2 linked regions of the Homo sapiens genome follow. The protein of the gene in region 2 purifies or fractionates together with the protein of the main gene of each other region. This does not show direct contact. Each region holds a gene or a part of one and is shown on either strand. Other genes may lie near its edges.

Region 1 (8,015 bases), on a different chromosome or scaffold from region 2:
GGAATGATGTCTTTGTGTATAACCAAGATATCTAAATTTCAGGGGCTATTAATTGGGCCAGGCGCAGTGGCTCACGCCTGTAATTCCAGCATGTTGGGAGGCCGAGGTGGTCGAATCACAAGTTCCGGAGATCAAAAGCATCCTGGCTAACACAGTGAGACCTCGTTTCCACTAAAAATACCAAAAATTAGCCAGGTGTGGTGGCAAGCGCTTGCAGTCCCAGCTACTCGGGAGGCTGAGGCAGGAGAATTGCTTGAACCCAGGAGACGGAGGTTGCAGTGAGCGGAGATCGTGCCACTACACTCCAGCCTGGGTGACAGAGTGAGACTCCGTCAAAAAAAAAAAAAAAAAAAAAAAAAAGCTTCCTTCTTACGAGAACATGAGGATCCTTGGACTGAAAAGGTCCAGAGAATGAAGGGAAAATCTATACAAAAACACATTATAGTGAAACTGAAGAATATAATGAACAAAAATACTCTGTAAGCCTTCGGTAATGAGGAATAGATCACCTACAAAGATTCAAGAATCAAATTGAAAGTGAATCTCTATATCAAAACTGCCTGAAGCAGGACAATGGAGTTATTTTTATATAATGTTGGTCCAAAGTTCCATATCAATTGCAAAACCAAAAAAAATTTTCAATGGAAAGTTTTGACTTATTTTGTGAGTGTGCTAGAAACAATAAGTTCGTCTTCAAACTTTCCTGTTCTTTCCTGTTCTGTAAACAACCCTTCCTTCCTTTGCCGCCCCAGACATGCCTTCCCGCCTAATTGGTACAGGACAGTGTCTTCCTTCCCGCCTAATTACCCCTATAGAATTTAAAGCAGTAGCCAATCCGGTCAGCTTAGAATGTGCATTGTGACTGACGCAGGCAGCACCCTTCTGTAGAAGCAAATATGCTTTGCTGAGAAATTTCCTGTTTAAGTGCTGGTTTTTCTTTGTGGCACTGAGCACTTGTTTCCAACAAGTGTGACAGCACAATTTATTTGCAAAATAAAACCAGATTTGGGATGACAGTAGGCTATGTATAATCTTTATTTCACTGAAATGTGAACACTCACATGTTTTGTTTTGCAATATTAGTGCTTTTGATTTTGGAGTAATTATTTATATCCCAATGGAGTTTCTAGTAAGACACTATTTAGAATATATACACTAAATAGCCTTTCTGAAGCCTCCAGATTCTTAACTTCAAAATGTATCTAGCTCCACAGCACAGAAGAGGTGCTTTCATCTTGTCTTAAGGGAAAATATAATTTTACATTTTAGAGTTTTAATTTAGGCAAAATGATATTTAAATAGAAGAGTCTCAAAAACTATTTTGTGATACTCAGGGCCTCAGTCTTTTTGCAAGACAAAGACTCATACCACAAGAAAACATCTATTGAAAATAATATTTAATAGGAAAACATGAATAAAATTAAAAATTCTGCCAGCCAAAAGATAAGAAGAGTGAAAAATAAACTTTTTTAGGTGTTCCTAATGTCTTACAAAGAAAACCCTGATCAAATATAAGAGAAACAGAAATTACAACAGCATGGTAAAGGGAGGGAAGAAAAAGAACATGACAATTCACTAAAGCAATTGTCTTAGATAGTGAGATGATATAGAAGTGTCATAAATTGAAGTAAAGACAGCAGATTGTTAATTACCAGCATATACCTAAAAGGTCTGACCTGTTAAGTGACAACTTTCATCAAATTTGATTTAAGAAATCTACATATATATTGTTAACAAAAGGTGAAAAAAATTGTTAAAAATTATCTTGCAAGGAATAACTAAAGAAAGCCAGTTTATCTATGTTTGTGTAATTTTAAATATACCTTAAGCCCAAAAGTAACTTCAGATACCACATGATAAAAGTTTCAACTCCTAGAAAATTATGTTTTAGTTATGAATTTATCTAATTTATCTAATGATATTATTTATTATTTTATAGTGCTTCATGGTACTATAATTAGTATATATTTCTCTTCATATACACACATGTACAGACATCACTACACACATATATGTGTGTACCTGTTTGTATACATGATTATATATACATATATTTGTGTGTGAATGTATATTATATATACACATAACATGTATGTGATTGTGAGAGCACTACAAAGAAAAAAAATTTTTTTTTTTTTTTGAGACAGAGCCTTGCTCTGTCACCCAGGCTGGAGTGTAGTGGCACAGTCTCGGCTCACTGCAACCTCTGCCTCCTGGTTCAAGCGATTCTCCTGCCTCAGTCTCCTGAGTAGCTGGGATTACAGGCACACATGACCATACCCGGCTAATTATTGTATTTTTAATAGAGACAGGGTTTCGCCATGCTGGCCAGGCTGGTCTGGAACTCCTGACGTCAAGTGATCCGCTCGCCTTGGTCTCCCCCAAAGTACTGGGATTACAGGCATGAACCTCTGTGCCCGGCCAAAAAAGCAAACTTTATAATAGGAGATTTCAGTTTATGCTTCAATTACTAAATGAACAAGGTGAAAAAATCTGTAATGATATAATAAATTTGAACAACGTAATTAACAACATTTATCTAATAAAATTCTGAAAACAACATTTAAGAATCTCACATTCCATTTAAGCACACATGAAATATTGTACCAGGCTATAGAAAACATCTTTTAAAAATTTGAAAAGTAAACAATAGTAACCTTTTCCTAACTGCCTTCCCCTCCACTCCCCTATACCTTGCCACAAGGAAAAAAAAAATCATTAACTTTCAGGAGGGCAGAGAGTAATTCCAAAATGATTGAAATTCTGCCGCTAGCACCCGGTGCAGAATGGAGCTAAAGTAAAGGATCAATATACTTATGAAAATATTAAGACACCATGTGCTTGAGTAACTGTGTTTGTGAAACTGAAAAAAATTTTCTACTCTGTGTACATTTGTTCTTATGTTTTGTAAAATTGGGATGATGTCATATAATACATCTCTATGCTCAGATATGTTTTTTACTTAATATTCTTTCATGATACTTTTTTCATGTCACTATCTTGAGAACCCACCACAGCTACCGAGTTTCCAACACTTCTTCCAGCCAAAATAACAGAAGCCCTCTTCTAAGTACCAACTTATGCCAGTATACACTCGGATAATTAATTTTAAAATCTGCAACGGTCAAAATGCATTTTCTCTTGTTCAGTCCTCAGTTGTGGTGGAATAGAAGATGCCTGTTATCTTCCTAAGTAAATGAAGGATTCATATCAAGCAACTCAGTTTTCACTTTTCTGAATACTCAGCCCTACTCCCATCATCCCATGACCCTGAATAACCAATACTGATTGTCCCCTTGTGATTCTGGGGACTTCAAGGAAGGAACAAGATCATATTTACAAAATCAGGAACAGTACTCACCTCACTGGAAATTTTTTCAACAGTAGTCCAGATCTTGAGATCTTCAGAAATGCAGGAATCAATGCTTATTTGTGTGAGGGGGGAGATAAATCAGTAAAGTTCCCAGAAACGGAACCGCAGGATGTTGTAATCTCCAGAAACGCTAAGAAAATGAAGTATCTGCAAAGATAACAAGGAAAAAAGGCCTTGGTTGAGTCACTTAGTTAGCTGACTAGTGCTGGCTTGCTCCTATTCTGCTATTGCCCCAGAGAAAATGGAGTAGGAAACAATGTGGAGACTCCTCCCACCAGTGTTTTTAGCTTTCGTTTCTGTTAGTCAGAGAAAATGAACAGTTTCCTGGCAAGGGCTGGAGCATGTGGTGAGGGGAAATGGGGGATGAGAAATTACTTTAATGGGTACAGTTAACATTTTTCGGGTGATGTGCACACTGAAATCTCTGACTTCACCAATATGGCATATATCCATGTAACGAAATTACACTTGTATCTCATAAATGTATATAAACACAAATAAGTTTTTTTTCTTACAAAATTCGATAGCTGAAAGGAGTTCCAACATTAGAACTTTCTTACCCAGCAGACTTACATGTGAGTCATTAGAGACTTATATTCCCTTAAATGATGCTCAAATATAAGAGAAGCAACATGGCTTCTTCTCCCCTCCTTTCCTGTGCACAGAGTGGCAGTGGCAGGAGGAGATCTTGGTAGGAGCATCTATTGCTACCAATACTTTACTGCATCTCCTGGTTGGGGAAATGTCTGCTATGAAATCGCTATTTGTTTAAATACTACCTGAAGTATTCATCCAATTATTAATAACTGACAAGCCTGGGCTTTCCAGATCAGAAAGTCATTATGAATATGTAAATCCTTCCTTAAATTTATATGAAGGAGTTTAACACTAGCTGTCCTCTTGACCATGACTAGGTTACTTTACCTCAATGATTAGATTCACGAATGCTCAGATTTTCTGCATTATTCCTGGATAAACAAACGTGGATAGTGGACTCTCAACATGACAGCATCGAAGACTTGAAAATCCTGGAAAATGCACTGAACTTCCGGTAGTGTGAGGAGTCTGTTTAATCCTCTGCTCAGCAGTGTATTTTTCTCTGTTAAGGACAGTGGGTGCCCTTTAGCGTGCTGTAACCCCAGGATGTCAAATAAATGGCATCAACTAGCAGATGATGTGGTGTTAACCCAGCAGCAGATCTGCAAGCAGGATGTGGTCATGAGTGGAAAAGGGGCCCCATAGACTGTTAATATGTACTGTCCAAGGCCATCTACAGAGCAAAAGAAAGCTGATTGTTTTAATCCAAACTAGGGCCATGAAGTGAATAGCTGAATTCTGGATTTGAAACCATATGAATAACTTTATCAAAAAAGGAGTAAGTCAAGAAAAAGCAAAGAGGATCTGGAATGATGGCCATAAACATCTCTGGGTGTTCGTGATAATCTTTTACTGGCTTTAGGGTACTCTTTACGTGGATACATTGAGTTGGCCTTAAGGCAGTAGGTAGAGAAGGATATTAAGGCAGTCACTGGGAACCCCAATCCAGAGGTCAAAGGGTAGAGAACCCTTGGAAGTTATGACCCTTCAGAACATTTTCTGCCTTTTACTTATAATCATTTTATATGCAGTAATGTCCTCAATTGGGACTCCAGCATACAACACACAAACTGCGGTCACCTATAAGGGCAACTCAGGACAATGCTCCATAATTCATACCACAAAGATGAAATTTTCATAGATGAAGCAAAGAAATGCTTAAAAATGTGCATTTTCCCCCACTTTGTGGCAGTGGCCAACAATTGCAATTTGTGCTATCATACAGAAAAGTCATTAGTAGAATATACAAAAATTCCTGATAAAGCAAAAAATGTGCGAATATATATACATATATATAAATTATGTAGCTACATTATTACAGTGACTAAATTTATATTAATCAGGCATTATTCTGAATAAAATCTCTCAATTATGTACCTATTTTTGAACAATGAGTGTTCCATTTCTCTCTTTATGACAAAAAGCAGCTTACTATTTTACCTTTCTGGCCTCATTTTCCATACTGTTCCACATATACCAAAGTTTTAGCTGTGCAGAAACATTTATGTCACTTCACACTTTAGAGTATTTGTAGGTGACATTTCTCCTGTCAGTATTGCAAATGTCTTTACCTTGCTAAGAACAAAAAGACCTATTGCACACTGGTTTTTCATGATGCAATAGACTGTGGCATATGCATTGTTCACTTGTTTTGCAAATCAACTCTATGCAGCAAAGTTTCCCCTTTTTAGAGAAGACTACTATCTTAGTTGATTTGGGTCTTCTGGATGCTGAGGGTTCCAAGATCAAGGATGGCCAACTTAGTTTCTGGTATGAGCCCTCTTCCTGGCTTGCACATAGCCATATTTATGCAGGGTCCTCACCTAGTGTTGAGAGAGAGAGAGAGCACTCTCTGATACCTCTTCTTATAAGGGTGCTAATCACATTATGAGGACCCCACCCTCATAAACTACCCACCAAAGGCCTCGTTTTCAAATATCATCACACTGGGAGGTTATGGCTTCATCATATGAATTTAGATAACATAATCCAGTGTGTAGCAGTAATTGAAGCTATTTTCTAAAAACTAGGCGCCTAGTTAGTGTTGGAGCCAAATTCAAACCAGATCTACCTTATTCCAAAGCCCATGCACTTGAATGCTAAGCAAAATTACTTCCTTGATTTACTAATTTCTACACATATTTTTTTCTTTAGCAAAACATCCATGTCCTTTTAAGCTTGTGTGAATGTCATTTTCTTCATTATTTCTTTACAGATTCTCCACTTAACAATATTAGCACAAGGGCATTGTTTGGGTTCTCATGCTTCCTGCTGGGGCTGGACCTTTGCTGTTAAGACACAGAATCTGATTTTCCCAAAGCCTAAACCGAATTATTTTCTTTTTTGGAATACTAACATTTGTCTCTCCAACTCTCACATGAATGGAACCATGCATTTCAGATAATGGCTTTGATGTTTTGTCCATTGATTCTCAGTTGAAATTAGAAGTCAAAGTTTATCTTTTTCGTCACACTTGGTTTTGTGCTGTTTCCTTTTCCCCAATACTTCCATTTTTCTCTGTATTATCTTGTATTTCCTAGATTGTGTTCTACTTAACATATGTATTTGTGATTAAAATTAAAGTATATTATTATATGATAAGGTAAAGGCCAATTCAATTCTATAAACAGTCAGAAATGCGAAATAACACAAAATTACGGACATAAAAGATGGGAGAAGTTTATGGTGCAAATACCTATCGCCTTGGTCTTTTTGTTTGTTTGTTTGTTTTTTGGCACTTGCACCAAGGGTGAATGTAGTTAAACAGGTGGTTATCGGGAAAACGCCCTGCTGGACTAAGAACCACCCTATATTGAAATGCCTAACCTTGTTTTTACTCTAACTCGTTACTTTGAATTTTGTCCTGCTTGTCTCTTTAATCACCCAGCCTTGCTTCTCATGTAAATAAGACTCTCTCTAGCTGGGAAGGTCGGACAAACTCCAATTGACCCCTTAATTTACAAGACACTAAGGGCTCCTTACCCAACCCCCTTTAGTAAGGAGTTGGCCTGGGTAAACAGATCCTCAGCGTTTCAAAAGAGCCCAATTAACTGATAAGGTAGTAACACCAACAATGTATGAAGTTCCCAGGCTTTTTCTCAAAAAGATAACAACATAAAACCTTGAGTTCGTGTCCGGCATAGACCCTATATCTAATTACAATGAAAGATTTACAACCTTGCACCTGGTACCGTTGCTCTTCTTGTAACCATTTGTCTTTTAAGGCATGTTTTTGCTTCTGTAGAATTATTGCATTTGAGTCCCCCTCCCCTTCCTAAACCTAGGTATAAAAGTTAATCAAGCCCCTTCCTCGGGGCCGAGAGAATTTTGAGCATTAGCCGTCTCTTTGGCCACTGGCTTACTAAAGGACTCTTAATTCGTCTCAAAGTGTGGGGTATTTTCTTAACTCGCTTGGGTACAACAATATAAGCACAAGGCAAGCTCAGACCAAAGAAGAGGCAGACCACTCCTGGCTGGTTGGTAGTCAAAGATCTAGATAGCAGAAACTTACACAGGAGGCAGTCTTAAGCGGGAACAAGAGAAGTCAGATCTCCACCTCGCAGTGCACGCCTGAGTAGTCTTTCAGACAGTGAGAAGAAACAAGGAAGGAAAAGCTGATGGGGGCGCTGAGGGGTGGGGATAGCTATACCGATAGTGCCTTAGGCCATCTGGTTGCTCTCTTAATCTATTTACTTCCTGCTTAAATGGATTGTTTGAGCTTCCTTCAATCTGTTCCACATTGCTAAGGAGTGGGAGGATGTTCCTGGAAGCAGCAGTCATCTTGGTGCCAGTATGCATTTTCCAGTGGGACTGCAGCCTCCTACAATTCAATTTAAGCTCAGTTCCCAGAACACGTTTTCACAACAATGCCATTCCTTCCCCTCCAACCTCAAGGCTTCTCTCAGCCAGTCCTTCCTTGAAATTTTGTAGTTTCTGTATTGCAGTTTTGTATTCTACTTTTCCTGTTGCTCAAAGCTAATGCCATAAACTCCAGACAACTCTGTTGGCAGAAAGAGCTTCTGTAGTTCTAGGGATGACCTCTTTA
Region 2 (8,233 bases):
TATGGTGTGTATGCCATCACAAAAAAAAATGGTGGGGTGCAGTGTCTCATCCCCGTACTTCCAAGACTTTGGGAGGCCAAGGCGGGAAGTTTACTTGAACCCAGGAGTTGGTGACCAGCCTGCCTGGGCAACAAAGGGAGACCACCATCTCTACCAATAAAAAAAATTTTTTTTGAGACAGGGTGTCACTATGTCACCCAGGTTGCAGTGCAGTGGCACGATCATGGCTCACTGCAGCCTTGATTTTCTGGGCTCGAGCCATTCTCCTACCTCAGCCTTCCAAGTAGCTGGGACCACAGGCACCAGTCACCATGCCTGGCTAATTTTTAAATTTTTTATGGAGGTGGGGTCTCACCATGTTGCTAGGCTGGGATTACAGGTGTGAGCCAACAGGCCCTCTACAAAATTTTTTTTTAAATTAGCCGAGCATGGTGGCATGCACCTGTAATCTCAGCTACTTGGGGGGCTGAGGTAGGATGATTGCTTGAGCCCAGGAGATCGAGGCTGTGGTGAGCCGTAATTGTGCCACTGCACTCCAGTCTGGGTGACAGAGTGAAAGTCTGTCTCAAAAAAAAAAATTACTCACTTAGTGTTGTTTTCAGTTTGGCCAATCAATCCCTAGCCGTCAACACAACCCAACTATCCCAAAGCAAGCCCAGTATCTAATAAGAGCGACCTTTTGGCCTCCTCCAATTATATGGCATTAATATCCATTACTTTTAAACAAGCAGAATACTAAGACCCATCGAATTGTCATGGCTAGTGCTCATACCCTCTCACTCTGTCCTACTGATACATCTATACAAAAACACATTCATCTGATCCAGGGTTCAGAACTACTATTCCCCGGCCTTGCCTTCTAACAACACCCTTTCCTTGGCCCTTTGGATCTAGCTTCTCTGGTTTCATACTCACACTCTCCCCAGCTCAACCCAATCCTGCCCTGCCCCCCAGACCCAACCCAGCTCAGCTCTTCAGGTCTGAGGTGTGGAGTCAACAAATAATTAAGCATACCATAGATAATCTGTCATTTAACAAAATAAGGCTGTTACCTGCAACATTTCTCTTCTTTGTTTTCACAGCACGTTTTAGATTTTCCATGATTGTTCAAAATTTCCTTTTCGATGTGAGAGAAGGATAGCCGCCATGTTTCTTCTTAATTTCAAAAAGAAAAACAAAAAAGCACTTTACCCAAAGCATCCATATCTAAACAATATTCAAGTGGTTTCCCTCATGAAAATATCCTGGGGCTGGGCATGGGGGCTCACGCCTGTAATCTCAGTACTTTGGGAGGCCGAGGAGGGTGGGTCACCTGAGGTCGGGAGTTCGAGACCAGCCTGACCAACATGGAGAAACCCATCTCTACCAAAAATACAAAAAAAAGTTATCCTGGCATGGTGGCACATGCCTGTAATCCCAGCTACTCGGGAGGCTGAGGAAGGAGAATCACTTGAACCTGGGAGGTGGAGGTTGCAGTGAGCCGAGATTGCACCATTGCACTCCAGCCTGGGCAACAAGAGCAAAACTCCATCAAAAAAAAAAAAAGAAAGAAAGAAAAAGAAAATATTCTGAAAAAATCTTAGGAGTGAATCAAAAGAAGTGAACAGATAAATAATTATGTATAAAAATAAGTACACTGAGACAAAAAATGGGCCTAACCGAAAAAAAAAGGAAGTCACAGTTTAATATAGTTAGCAATAGTAAGATGTATTACCTTTTATATATTGCTAAATTCCCTTTGTTAAATATTTTGTTTCAATAATAATTTGAATCAATTTATTCACTTTTTCTGTACCATCCTTACAGGTTTTATATTAATACAAAATGAATTGGGGACCATTTCCTTTATTCTTATTTATGAGAGTTTGTGTAAATATAGAATGATTTCACCTGGGCGCGGTGGCTCACGCCTGTAATCCCAGCACCTTGGGAGGCCAAGGTGGGCGGATCACAAGGTCGGGAGATCAAGACCATCCTGGCTAACACAGTGAAACCCTGCCTCTACCAAAAATACAAAAAATTAGCCGGGCGTGGTGGCGGGCGCCTGTAATCCCAGCTACTTGGGAGGCTGAGGCAGGAGAATGGCGCGAACCCGGGAGGTGGAGCTTGCAGTGAGCGGAGATCGCGCCACTGCACTCCAGCCTGGGCAACAGCACAAGACTCTGTCTCAAAAAAAAAAAATTTCTCCCCGAGTCTTACCATGGCTAGCTCTTTTATGCTCTGACCACCCTGTTACTTCGTGGTTTTATACTAGCAAAGTATAAGTAGTTTATAATCTGAATGATTTTTCAGAAAAATCAATCAATATAATCTGTCACATTAACAGAATAGAGGAGAAATACATGATTGTCTCAATAGATGAAGAAAATGAAGCTCTTAAAATCCTATAGTCGTTCATCATTAAAAAAACACCTCTTAGCAATCTAAGTCTAGATGGACACTTGATTCCATAAAAGGTAGATTTTAGAAAACTATAGCAACAATCATTATGTGAGGTAAAAAGTTGGAGAGAGAAATCAGAAAGAAGGCAAAACATCTGCTATCTCTATTTCTGTTCAACATGCACTGGGTGTCATAGCAAGCACAGTAAGGGAAGGAAAAACAGGGTTACACACTGGAAAGGGAGAAACAAAGCCATCATTATTCATAGGTGATGTAATTGCATATATAGGAAATACAAAAGAATCTACAATGCTGGGCATGGTGGTTCACGCCTGTAATCCCAGCACTTCAGGAGGCCGAGACAGGAGACCAGCCTGGCCAACATGGTGAAACACCATATCTACTAAAAATAGAAAGATTAGCTTAGCCAGTGTGGTGGCGTGTGCCTACACATACCACATGTATGTATGTATTTGTATATAGTCCCAGCTACTTGGGAGGCTGAGGCAGGAGAATCCCTTGAACCCGGAATGCCGAGGTTGCAGTGAGTCGAGATCACGCCACTGCACTCCAGCCTGGACAACAGAGCGAGGCTCCATCTCAAAAAAGAAAGAAAATGAAAAAAGAAAAAAAAAATTATGTAAATAAACTCACCAAATCAATTAAAAGAGTTACCAAGATTGTGGATACAAAAATCAAAGGTATTTTGATATATGGTAATAAACAAAAAATGAAATTTTGAGAAAGATGTTACTTACAATAGTATAAAAACTAGCAATTAGGCCAGGTGCAGTGGCTCATGCCTGTAATCCCAGCACCGTGGGAGGCCGAGGTGAGCAGATCACCTGAGATATGGGGTTCAAGAGCAGCCTGGCAAACATGGCGAAACTCCGTCGCTACTAAAAATACAAAAATTAGCCAGGCATTGTGGCACACAGTTGTAATCCCAGCTACTCAGGAGGCTGAGGCAGGGGAATCGCTTGAATTCAGGAGGCAGAGGTTGCAGTGAGCCAAGATCATGCCATTGCACTCCAGCCTGGATGACAGAGTGAGACTCAGTCTCAAAAAACAAAAACAAAAACAAAAAACAAACAAAAAAAAACACCCAACAGTTACCTTCTAGATCTAACTGCTAATGAAATATGGATGAGGCCAGGCACAGTGGCTCACTCCTGTAATCCCAGCACTTTGGGAGGCTGAGGCGGTGGATCACCTGAGGTCAGGAGTTCGAGACCAGCCGGACCAACATGGTGAAACCCCATTTCTACTAAAAATACAAACATTTAGCCGGGCATGGTGGCACAAGCCTGTAATCCCAGCTACTCTGGAGGCTAAGGCAGGAGAATCACTTAAACCTGGGAGGCGCAGGTTGCAGTGAGCCAAGATCGGGCGATTGCACTCCAGACTGGGCAACAAGAGCAAAACTCCCTCTCAAAAAAACAAAACAACAACAACAACAAAAAGAAATATGGATGAAAGCAGAACATGCTAAACGACACTTCTAGAATGCACTCTACAAACTCTCTTTGGGAAACTCTACAGGAAAAATAACCTGTTTCTTCAATGAGTAAATTGAAGTAAATTGAGTAAATTTTATTCAAGGAATAAAAAAGTTATGAAAGAGGAAGTTATGAGTTAAAAGAGATTTAACAGACATATTGGTCAGTCACAATGTATGAACCTTATTTGAATCCTGATCCAAACAGACTGATCCAAACATACAAAAAAAGTATGACACTTACAAGACAAGCGGAAATTTTAATACTGAATAGGTGTTTGATATTAGGGAATTATTACTTTTTTCTTTCATTTTTTGAGACAAGATCTCCCTCTATCACCCAGGCTGGAGTGCGTGAACACAGCTCACTGAAACCTCGACTTCCCAGCCTCAAGCAATCTTCTCATGTTAGCCGTTCCAATAGCGGGACCAGAAGCATACATCACCATGGCTGGCTAATTTTTGGATTTTTTTGTAGAGACGGGGTCTCTCCACCTTGCCCAGGCTGATCTCAAACTCCTGGGGTCCAGCAATCCTCCCACCTCCCAAAGTGCTGGAATTACAGCTGTGAGCCACTGTGCCCAGCTAATATAAGAAAATTATTATTTGTTTATACATTTATTTTTATTTATTTTTATTTTTTGAGATTGAGTCTCGCTCTGTTGCCCAGGCTGGAGTGCAGTGACACCATCTCAGCTCACTGCAACCTCTGCCTTCCAGGTTCAAGTGATTCTCCTGCCTCAGCCTCCTGAGTAGCTGGGATTACAGGCATGCGCCACCATGCCCGGCTAATTTTGTATTTTTAGTAGAGATGGGGTTTCACCATGTTGGCCAGGCTGGTCTCGCACTCCTGACCTCAGGTGACCCACCCGCCTTGGCCTCCCAAAGTGCTTGGATTACAGGTGTGAGCCACCGCTCCCAGTCATTGATTATTTTTTTAAGACAAGGTTTCACTTTGTCACCCAGGCTGGAGCGCAGTGACATGATCTCGGCTCACAGAAGCCTCAACCTCCTAGACTCAAGTGATTCTCCCACCTCAGCCCCCCAAATAGCTGGGACAACAGGTGCATATTACCACACCCAGCTAATTTATTTTGTATTTTTTGAAGAGACAGGGTTTTGTCACGTGGCCCAGGCTTGAACTCCTGGGCTCAAGTGATCCACCCACCTCAGCCTCCCAAAATGCTGGTATTACAAGCATGAGCCAACACTCCTGGCCCAGTCTCCTTTGGTACTGGTTTAAAATTTTCATAATAAAAAGTTTTGGCCAGGCGCGGTGGCTCACGCCTGTCATCCCAGTACTTTGGGAGGCCGAGGTGAGCAGATCACCTGAGGTCAGGAGTTTGAGAGCAGCCTGGACAACATGGTGAAACCCTATCTCTACTAAAAATACAAAAACTAGCCAGACACGGTGGTGGGCACCTGTAATCCCAGCTACTCAGGAGGCTGAGGCAGGAGAATCGCTTGAACCCAGGAGGTGGAGGGTGCAGTGAGCCGAGATCGCACCACTGCACTCCAGCCTGGGTGACAGAGCGAGACTCCATCTCAAAATAAATAAATAAATAAATAGTTTTAAAATAGATCAATTACCTATGAATAAATTAACAAAAGATATACAAAACCTCTGCAGAGAAAATGCTAATGAATGAAGCTGGGAAGTATTAGAGGAGATGTAAATAAGTGGATTGGGAGACTCAATATTGTTAACATATCAACTCTCTCCCATGTTTTTTTTTTTTAATACAGACAGTGTCTTGTTATGTTGCCCAGGCTGGAGTGCAGTGGCAAGATCATAGCTCACTGTAACCTCGAACTCCTGAGCTTAAGTGATTCTCTTGCGTAACTAAGACTACAAGCTACAAGTGCACACCACCACGCCTGGCTAATTTTTAAAAAGTTTTTATAGAGATGAAGACTCACAACTCTCTATAAAAACTTTTATAGAGAGTTTTTTTTTTTTAATTTTTTTTTGAGACGGAGTCTCTCTCTGTCACCAGGCTGGAGTGCAATGGCGTGATCTTGGCTCACTGCAACCTCTGCCTCCTGGGTTCAAGCGATTCTCCTGCCTCAGCCTCCCGAGTAGCTAGGACTACAGGCACGTGCCACCATGCCCAGCTAATTTTTGTATTTTTAGTAGAAATGGGGTCTTACCATGTTGGCCAGGATGGTCTCGATCTCTTGACCTCGTAATCCACTCACCTTGGCCTTCCAAAGTGCTGGGATTACAGGCGTGAGCCACCACGCCTGGCTAGAGTTTTTACACAGTGTTGTCCAAGATGGTCTTGAACCCCTCACCTAAAGCAACTCTCCTTCCTCAGCCTTCTGAAGTGCTGGAATTACAGGCATAAGTCATCATTCCTGGCCCCAAATTTATCTATAGATTCAACATTATCTCAATCAAAATTCCAAAAAGTATTTTGTGGAATCTGAAAAGCTGATTTCAAAATTTATATGAGAATGTAAAGGGTCAAGACTCTCTCAGACACCCTTGGAGAAAAACGAAGTGGTAGAACTTGCCCTAAAAGATATTGAGACTAATTATAAAGCTACATTATGTACAACAACATGGTACAAAGATAGACAAAGATTTTAATGGGACAGAATAAAGAGTTCAGGGATAGCTACACAATACGGTTGGCCCTCTGTATCTGAGGGTTTCACATCTGAGAATTCAACCAATCGTGAATTGAAACCCACAGATATGGAGGGCCAACTGTATTATATCATTTTATGTAAGGGATTTGAGCATCTGTGGACTTCGGTGTCTGCAGGGTACCCTGGAGCCAATCCTGAGGGTCAACTGTACATGACTGTAAAGAAAGGTGGCACGTACCGTTGATAAAATTTGATAAGGATGGCACTTTGCCTCTGTGACCTTCCTCCCCCAAACCAATAACTCTGATCTAATCATAAGAAACATAATAAAGAAATCTCAAGTAAAGGACATTCTACAAAATACCTAACTAGTACTCCTCAAAACTGTTAAAACCAAAAAACTGTCACAGTCAAGAGTAGCTTAAGGAGACATGACAACTAAATGCAATATGGTATCCTAAATGGGATCTTGGAACAGTAAAAGGACATTAAGAAAAACTAAGGAAATCTGGATAAAGTATATAATTTTTTTTTTTAATGGAGTCTCGCTGTGTCTCCTAGACTGGAGTGCAGTGGCATGATCTTGGCTCACTGCAACTCCACCCACCAAGTTCAAGTGATTCTCCTGTCTCGGCCTCCTGAGTAGCTGGGACTAAGTCACATGCCACCACGCCTGGCTAATTTTTGTATTTTTTTAGTAGAGACGGGGTTTTGCCATGTTGGCCAGGGTGGTTTCGAACTCTTGATTTCAGGTGATCTGCCCACCTCGGCCTCCCAAAGTGCTGGGATTACAGGCAAGACCCACTGTGCCCAGCAGATATAGCCCTTAGCTAACAATAATATATCAATATTGGTTTATTAATTATTAAATGTATTGTATTAATGTGAGATATTAATAATAGGAAAATGGGGGTGCTGCAGTGGCACGTGTCTGTAGTCCCAGTTACTTGATAAGGTGAGGTGGGAGGATCATTGAGCTCAGTTCAAGACCAGCATGGGCAACATAGTGAAACTCTGCCCCACTACCTCCCCCAGAAAAAACCCCAGGGGAATGGGTATGGGGTTATACGGGAACTCTCTGTACTATCTTCACAATTTTTCTGTAAATACAAAACTATGCTAAAACAAAAAGTTTATTTTTAAATAAACTACACTGAGATATCATTTCTTACTTTTTGAGATATCATTTTCTCACTGGCAAGAATTTCAATTGGCAAAAAGTTTAACAAGTCAGTGAGGTTGAGAGTGAAACAGGTACTCTGATACATTGCTGTGGAAAAGCAAATTGGAATGATGCCTATGGAGATCTGGGAAATGCCTAGCAATATTACATAACGATTTACTCTTTGACCAGCTGTAAAAATAGACTTTAAAAAGGAATGGGTGTTTTCTCTATATAGAGGTATGGAGTGAGATCGAAAATATCTTGTTAAATTAAAAGAAAAAAAGTGTTATATCTGAGAGCAGGGCGTCTATAAAATTAAAAAATAAACCAAATTAATAAAATTAAAAAGAAAAACATATGTCCTGGCCATGATGGCTCATGCCTATAATCCCAGCACTTTAGGAGGCCAAAGTGGGAGGACTGCTTTAGGCCAGGAGTTTGAGACCAGCCTGGGCAACATAGCAAGACCCTGTGTCTACTTTAAAAAAAAAAAAAAAAAAAGTGTACCTTTTATTTAAAAAGGGGGTAGCATACAAATATATTTTGTATGTATATAAATTACTATATTATCTAATATTTATGTTCAATCTACC

What was found. Proteins that work in one complex are often made in the same cells at the same time.
Region 1: the proteins of CGAS (region 2) and IFI16 purify together in Homo sapiens (affinity purification with western blotting; 2 studies listed by BioGRID, with this or other methods). This does not show direct contact.

Annotation. Positions count from the first base shown.
Region 1 is NC_000001.11:159,005,508-159,013,522, reverse strand, and holds the start of IFI16 (gamma-interferon-inducible protein 16), read right to left. Parts: upstream 3,617-8,015; 5' UTR 3,362-3,616; intron 1,017-3,361; exon of another isoform or gene 43-1,016; intron 1-42.
Region 2 is NC_000006.12:73,427,657-73,435,889, forward strand, and holds part of CGAS (cyclic GMP-AMP synthase), read right to left. Parts: intron 1,156-8,233; coding exon 1,053-1,155; intron 1-1,052. UniProt on the Homo sapiens protein: Nucleotidyltransferase that catalyzes the formation of cyclic GMP-AMP (2',3'-cGAMP) from ATP and GTP and plays a key role in innate immunity.